Linked DNA regions of Homo sapiens: region 1 is linked to region 2. Evidence: fine-mapped expression QTL. A gene starts in region 2. The other region holds a variant in brackets. All regions are shown on one strand. Distances are from middle to middle.

What was found.
Region 1: its variant is fine-mapped to the expression of SLITRK3 in esophagus muscle (GTEx, PIP 0.94).

Annotation. Positions count from the first base shown.
Region 1 is chr3:165,283,400-165,287,804 of GRCh38, reverse strand. All of the region lies in intron 2 of LINC01322 (long intergenic non-protein coding RNA 1322), which reads right to left. Among named protein-coding and RNA genes, the nearest start is that of LINC01322, 79 kb to the right of the region's middle. The variant T/G (reference allele first, on the strand shown) is at 2,309.
Region 2 is chr3:165,194,512-165,198,916 of GRCh38, reverse strand. SLITRK3 (SLIT and NTRK like family member 3) reads left to right here and starts at 2,533. Exons shown (of 2, transcript NM_001318810.2): 1 at 2,533-3,337.

The DNA.
Region 1 (4,405 bases), 89 kb before region 2:
GCACGGAGGACAAACAGTACCAAACTCTGAAAAATCTAATCAACCAATCAATATTTGTAAAACAGCTTAAATTTGTTAAACTACATACTCTAACTCAGCTATGGGGAAGAAATTTAACTATAGGTCTTAGTATTTGAAGAGTCAAACCAACTATTTTAACTGTACAAGTGAAGGGTTCTAGAATTATTACTCAGGAAAATAGATCATTATGGTGAAATGAGAAGTCATTATTCTGGGATATGTTGTTTCAGTCAGCATTAGCTTTCAGGAACCAGTCAGGAATGGCAGTGAATAGAATTAGGCAGAGTACTCAAGTTTCAGCCAAATGAATTGGGAAAAGAAGGGAAAACCCACTCATTCATTCATTCTTTTAATCACTAGATAAGTATATAATGAATATCTACTACATGCCAAGTTCTCTGCTATATGATTAATTTTAAAACATAGTCCTAGCTAATTTTAAAACATAGTCATGGAGTTTACAGTCTAGTTATTCAAATAATTAGAAATAGATGAAACAAAAGGACGATGCAATAGCATTATTGTTAGGTAATGGATAAATTGGAAGGAAACATTGAACTAGCCCAACAATTGCCAATTTTCTGCTATTGTGAATGTACAATAGTGTGCATAAAGTCTAGGTTTGGGATTTTAAGTTGAAAAAACAGAAACTTACATATGTTTTTTAAAATGAAGAGAATCATTACTCTATATGAAGGAATGTAACTATGAAAAAAAGTCATTTGTATAATTAAATTAAAATACTATTTTTATTAATGAATGACAGAATTTGCCAGATTATAAGAAAATGGTGATTCTAATTATGGCACTATTAAGAGGGTCCCTATTGCAACAATTAGAATTTGACTTTTTAATTATGCCCTGGCAAACTGCCTTACTGAATTAATACCCTGGAACTAATATTTGAAGGCATCATTAGTATATTTTGTTAATAATACCAAGAAAGATTACATTATTATATTCCATATTGGAATCATATTTTCAGGTATTGCAAAAAGTCATTGTGAGCAAAGTAAAGTTTTTAAAACTTAAATTGCATGATATTTTTATTCAAATATGTTCTGCTAGGCACTCAGAAGTATAGGTCTCAGAAGAAACTTTTTATTTCATTCCAGTTCCTTTATACATATTCAGCACATTTTCCAAATATCCCATGAATTGCCCCTAAATTTCTGATAGTTTTCTCATTTACCTTCTCTGTTATTGCTAATTACTCAATACTATTGGTTCCATAGCCAATGTTTAGCACCATTCCTTGGCTGCCAAATGTCCTCTAGCTACTATTTACAGCTGTCCATACTTGATCTAAATTTTTGCGTCACTCAACAAAAAGCTGTCTGGATCTACCAATCAGCTTCATACAACTTCTTATAAAAGTGTTCCTGCCCCTTCTCAGCACCTAAGTCTGTTCCTAACAGTTCTCCATATAAAAGGGAAAAATAATTAAACAGAATCCTTTACTTATTTAAATATTTGCGTTTTTTCTTTTTTTAGAATATATGCAAAAGTGTATAATAATTACAGCAAAGTTTTTGTAATATACTTTTCCTGATTCTCTTATAGCTATCACTTTTGAATTACAAACTTACAGTAGCTATGATCCAACAAGGGGTTACAAATTGCAGGATTTTTAAATGATCTTTTAGATTACAAAACAACTACCATCCAAAGAGATATTCTCAGAATTTTAAAATCTTCTCTCTTACTAAAAATAAACAATAACAAATAATTTTAAATATAAAAAAAACCTTTAAACCAACTTCAGCTGACTCTATGGAACCTAATAGATAATTCTGCCTCTGTATTGATGGGAATGCACTTCAAAAGCACTATAATACAGCATTATTTATAATTTGTTACAAAATCATGAGCTCGTTCAACAGAAGTGTATCTTTCAGACAATTGACAAATATCCATCTACGAGCTAAAGGTGAGATTATTTAATAATATCTGAGAGAACCTTTAAAAATATTATAAACTTCAATGGTTTCTTAATCAGCATCATTATGGTCCTCAATTATTATACTAAGGTTTAATGCAACAATTCCTCATTTGGCATTAAGGTAGGTATATAAGAATGATTTTCTTGTATATTTCAGTGCCCTCAAGTCAATAAGCTTTTTGCTTTTGTGTTTGTTTTTTTATAGTCATCCACCCCTTTCTTATTATCAGCCTGTCATCTCCTTTTATTTTTTGCTTGTAAAATATCTTACCCAACCCACTTTTTCTTTTTTTTTCCACATCTATCCTTTACTGAGGACTAACAACTTTGAGTGAATTATGGATT[T/G]TAGATCATTTCTTCCAAACAAATGAGCATTAAGTTTCATACATATAAATATAAACAAATGTTATATCTAATACTATATAACATATTAACATTTATATTACATATACTGTATATAAGTTTACTCATCAACACAATGTGTGTGTGTATGCAACTAGGATATAAAATGGTTTAAGGACAATTTCCCGCATATTTGGGGTTTATGGCAGGGTTGTAGACATTTGAGTCAGCCAGAAAATGTGCTTCCTGATAAATAAAGTGTCATTGCAATAAACTAGAGCTATCAAGCTCCACCTAGTTCACCCTAATGAATGCTATGAGATATGGAAAAATAAAACAATGAAAAAATTTGCTCCTAGCATTGATTATATTTAAAACCTAATTTCATAAATATAAGCAAACACATGTTATCCAAATGTGCAATTTAATCTTACGTTAAAATTGAAATACTGAAAGCTTTGGTTTCATGTTGACAATATTATTTTAACATCATTATTTTAACTCAGATTCAATTCTACTTTGTTTTTGTTATTCTGAAAAAAAGAAAATAAGCCATAAGCCAGTCATAAACTCCCTTACTCTGCTGATTAATAGGGGTTTCTCATATTTTTGTATCAGTAAATCGCTTTGGCCTGATTCAATGCAGCATTATCCTTTATTAGGAAGTCGGGTTTTATGCTATCACATAACATTTTAGGAAAGGGCCTGAGAGATCATTGGTCCATTCCCTTTATTTAGAGATTATAAAAGGATTTTAGAAAGATGCTGAAAAAAAATCTCTTGTGTTCTGATTAAAGTTTATCTTTTTTTGCTCCACTTAAATAAGTTTCTTATGTCTTGTTCATATAAACAATCCCACTGTTATATAAGGTCAGCTAACTGCTATAGTGCTTCAATCAGGCATTACCATGTTGTGGAGAGAAAAAAATAACACATTTTTAAAAAATGTCATACACAGTAATGTTCATAACTTACATCCGTAAGTTATTGTTTTGTCATAAAAATGTTCTTCTCAACTATGACCGAATAATCCTCATCATATCTTATTTTTTCTTTGTTCCATTTTCTTTTCTATGTTATCGGCATTAGAGGGATTCTGGAAAAAATCACCTTAGTGGTATTTCTAAAAACAAAGAGATGTTTTAAAGTCATTTTTTCTGACCACAAAATTAATGCAAAGTATGAAAAATAAAAAAGAGGTATACATGTGTCTGTGTGCATGCATGTGTGTGTGTGTGTGTGTGTGTGTATAATGAGTAAATACATAATATATACACACAATCTATACTTACCATGATCTATTATCTCATCATCCAGGGGCTAAGTATCTTGAGATATTTCTATTTTGTCTTTCTTTTATACTGTTTTGTTTTGTTTTGTTCTGTTCTGTTTTGTTTTGTAACATGAATGCAGACATACATATGGAAATTGCAAGCCTGGCTACTGTCTTAAGAAAGAATTAACCTGAATTTGTTTTTTAGTTCTGATGTAACACACCAAGGACAGGCCTGCAGAGTCATTCTTTAAAAACCTTTTTCTGTGTTCACCATTATGACCTAACTTGACTCAGGAAGAAAGAGGCAACAATTTTGAAGTAAAGGAAAATTTCACCCATTTTTGAATCCTGGAAAATTATAAAAAGAAGAAGAAATATTTTGTTGTAAAAGAGCATCAACAGCAAGGCTCCCCCGCAACTACCTATTTCAACCACTGGCAGGAGGGAACTTTGCAGTATATCTTATAAATAGTCAAGAGCAAAATGTGATCACGGGAAAGGAGGCTTTGGGATTTATCTTTCCAGGATGATTTAATTTCAAATATGGATTGGAAGTAAATTGAAAACCAGAGGAACCACCATGATATATATCACGATGTAGTGAGGGGACTTCTTTCAGACTGCAGGATGGATCATGGTAGCTGATAGCTCAAGAAAGCTGAAGAGAAGTTGAGTCAGCATTGAGCAGGCTGAGAGTCCCTGTATATGCATATCAAAAAAAGATCACGTGAATCTACCTGAAGGGTGTGTTGTAAGCAGAAGAAAAAAAAAAATGTTTCCCTGGAGAGCAGCACGTGTCTGTCTTTACGCACTGGAGAACCAGC
Region 2 (4,405 bases):
CAATATTTTTATCTGGCCTGTAATATTTGTATGGGTAGTACTCATGTTTAACACTAACAACCTATTCTAGCTATTCAATCTTCTGCAGCTCCCCAGTACCATCAGGCCACACTAACATCTGCTCAGAGTAAACAAATTAATATATTCAGAACTCTCTCATCAAAATGACCTTGAAAATAGTTCCAAAAAGTTAAAGAGATTCAGTAACTTTAGGAGTGATGTTGCCCAATGTCTTTCAGGGTTACTTTAATATCCTCCAGCCCTGAGGCTCAAAGGGCATGTGTGTGATTTCACACTTGCCCACATAAAATATGGTGTATCCAGGAGTGAGTCTCCTCAAATTGGGCAACCACCTGAAAAGGCCAAAAATATCTCTGTGACACATCAAACTACTGATGCAGTTTGGTTTTTCCTAAATCTGACTGATTCATTATGGGGATGTACTCCTTTGGCAACCCTGCCTAGATATACCACTTTGAAGCCCAATTTGGCGACCCAGTGAGTGAAACACCTATGACAAATTTTCTTTGTATATCTATGTCTTCCTGTATGTAAAATTCACATGGAAGAATTTATTATCCTAGAAAATACTGGAAAGAGGTTTGGAATTCATGCCAGTGAGTCTGAAATGCTATATTTAAAAAGAATCCATTTTAATACATGGTGCTTTTTATTACTTTCTGGGTCCCTGTAGATATTTTACTAATCTTAATAATCTTGAAGAATGCTGAGTATTTTAAAGAACAAATGAAAACATTGTAAGTATGATATATACACACACGTATACACGTATATATATATAATCTAAATTCATTTTATGCAGAACCAACACAGTTGCCATACTAAATTTAGAGTGTGTGTATATGTATATATCCCAAAAAATTCCACAGGCCCCTGGCTGTCTCTGTGACCAACTCCATCCTTTCCTATCTTTTAATGTAGGTAATACGGACACTAACTTGTGGTATTATATGTCAATAATATGAACTAACGATGGTATAAATTATAGTATATACAAAATTCACTAAATAAAGATGTAAAACATATATCCAGGCCTGTCTATCGAAGGATTTTATGCATAAATTAAAAGAGAGTACTGTTTCTTTGCAAAGGGTGAGTTAGAGTTCTTTGAATGCTTTTGAAAATAGGTTCAAGATCATTCTACCTACAATTATAATAGCTAAATAACTTTGCCTTCCTTGGACAATGTATTGCATTCTCTTCAGGAAGAAATGGCAAGAGATACAGAGATGATTCCCCAGGCTACCTTCTATTCACTTTGGGAGTTAGTGGAAGACTGCCCTCTTTCCAACACAGTCTCTGATGAAAGGGATCTATTAAAAAGAATTGCGTTGGTTTACACTGCAGATTGAATGGAGCATTAAACGAATGACTGCATTAGTATGACTGCAGTGGGGGTAATGGTCGCCTCTGTAATGTTGTAATAATACTTTCACATACGTGTTATTACACGTATTAATTGTTCCAGTGTCCGTATCTAATTTATCGCGAAATGGTATCCAGCATCTCTCAGGCAAATGCCCCCCTCCCAACTCCCTGTGCCCTACAGTTTTATGCCCCCCGCCCCCGGCAAATGTAAACAGATGAGGAAATATGTGTACTTTCAAATCGTCACCCATGTATCATGAAGGTGGGGGATTACTGCAAATCACTTGGAAACCGCTCCCCGGAGGCGTTTAGCGATACCGCCCACCAATACAGCTCAGATGTTCTTAATTTGATCACCCTCCACCTTTTGGGCTGTAATTTTCCAAACAGGCATCTCTCTCATTTGCAAATAAAAGTTACAAATCAATCCACGGGTACAGAATGCTGACTTCCCGACACTCAATTTCACAGGGTGTCTCTTGAAGAGCTGCCAGGTTGTGACCGATAATGGGGGAGAGGGAAAGGCGGACAGCGAAAGCGAGAGAGAGAGAGCGAGAGCGAGAGCGAGAGAGAGAGCGAGAGAGAGAGAGACAGAGAGAGGAGAGAGAGAGAGAGAGAGAGAGAGAGAGACAGAGAGAGAGAGAGAGAGAGAGATCACTTGCTTCCTTGCTTCCTAAGCCGGGATTTTGCCTGCGATGCGCGGCGAGAGGACTGCGGCGGCTGATTTACACAGTTGGCGCGGAGGAGGGGCCGGGGGTGCGGGGGGGACGCGCTGGCGGAGCTCCGGCGATGGGCTGATCTGGGGGCTCCCGAGCGCCGCTCCCTTGGTGCGCGATTTGGGGGCGGCTGATGGATTTGCATTCAGGTTCCAGCCCTGCGTTTCCTATATTGACTCCTTATACACGACCTGGCGCTCCAGTTTAGGAGGAGACGTTGGTAAGTAACGTGTAATCCGATTTTAGTTATTTCCTAGGCCATTAAAGTGGCACTTTTAAAGCAGGTCAGTCTTAAAAGATGCCGCCGCCGCCGCCGCCGCGAGCGTCTCCTTGGCCTGAAACGTTCAGCAGTCCCCTCCCCCTCCCACCCCCCTCCCCCGCACCTTCTCCCGCTCGAGAAGTGAGGGTGCTTGAATGGTGAGCGGTCAGAGGACTCACTCTCTGCCAACGGTATCGCTTCACCTTCGTGCTTTGCCTGAGATCTCCCAAATCCAAGTGGAATTTGGTGTGCACAGCCATACTGTGTATTTGTATCTTCTCTCCCCCTCTCCTTCTTTCCCCCCACCTTCGCCGTCTGACCAATGCTGGGATCTGAGATCTAGTCGCCCCCTTCCTGCCTCCTTTCCGCCTCTCCCCACCCTTTTCTTCTCTCATCTACACGCCACCAACCCCCACTCCCACCCACCTAAAGGGCAAAGAGCAAAGACACCCTGGAAAAGCAAGGGCTAATTCCATCTTCTCGGATGGAAGGAGGCCTCGGGCAGGGATTGCGCTGTGAGTGACAACCTTTGAGGAAGAGAGAAAGAGAGAAATCCAGAGACTGAGCTCAGGCTCTCGGGAACAACGAAGCTCTCCACTGATCCAGAGCACCGAGATTTTAAATCAAAGGAACCTAGTCCTGGGACACTCACTCTGCCTGCCTGCCTACCAACCATCGAGGGCATAGGGAGCTGTGGTCGTGAGCTCCCTGTCGCTGGCATCGCCGCGCTAGGTGCGCGCCCCGCTCTCCCATTGGTATGCAGCGACCATTTCCCTGCAAGTCTCAAAGGTGGAAACATTTAAACGGATTACAAGCGTGATTCGGTAGCCTTTCGGAAAGTTGGTGGCCAGAAGAGGAGAAGCTACAAGGCTACAGTATGATGGATACAATTCAGCTTCGCAGAGAGTTTGCCCCTCCTGCTGGGTAGCCCCTCGCAGCAAACCTCGGAGATCCTGAGCGCTCTGCACCATAGGTACTCGCCGCCATCCTTTCCTACTTCGCCTAATTGAAACCAGTATTTCTCGTATGTAGGATGTGCATTGTAGAGCACATCGAGTTTGGCCGCGGTGTATTCTGTACGCTCACAGGTGCTAGGGGTTTGTTGCAGTTTTGAATTGGATCAGTTAGGTGTAAGGACGTTGGTGGAAGGAGGGGTACCGGAGACTAACATACCCTCGGACCTCTTTTCTGGGTGAAGACATCGTAAGTAACTCCAACAAATAGGCCAGGTGGCGGAGCGAAGGACCCCTCCCCCAGTGGAATGCTCGCTGGTGTTGTAAGAGGTAGAAGGAAAAAGGCTTGAGCTTTTAATAATTTTCCGTTTCTAAACAGACCATTGTGCGTTTCGCCTGACGACAGCAGATTAGAAAAGGCTCTATAGACGGCTCAAAGCTCTTCAGAAAATGAATGATGCAGCGTTTTAATTATTTGTTCTAGGGAAGATAGTTTTGCTTCCATATTGGAATACTTAATCTTAGATCTGAAAAAATTAGTGAGCTGTAAGATCCAGCAGTGGGGAGGAGGAAGTGGGAAGGGGGCACAGCAGGGAGAAAGGGCTTCTTGTCCTCCCTCTGGACAAACAAATGGCTCTGGGCGCTCCCAGCAGGACACGGAAAAAACTGGGGCCCCATGGCTCAATATTCCCTAACTTTTGGAGCCCTCCCTGTCCTTTAGACGCGCTATCCTGAGCTAAAGAAAAGGAAAAAGGTGAGATAGCCTTTAGGACACAGCCCAGGTCCAGAACGTAAGGGGTTTTAGTTCAAGAAATAACAGAGACTTCATTGCCGAGACAACATTTACCGTCATCTGGAAGCTCAGGGCAGCCTCCGGGTTACCCATCGATTCCATCACATCATGGGTTCCGATAACACCCGATAAATAGTCACCGCCTCTGCACATTGGGTACCCAAAGTGCTGGGCGGGGGATGGGGGGGAGGGTGCGGGTGCCGGCAGCTGGGGAGGGAGAGGGAATTGCTCTGATTCTGAGCTTAGGCTATCGGTATTGGTTTACTTCTTGGCTAAGACCTATGGGAGCAATAGG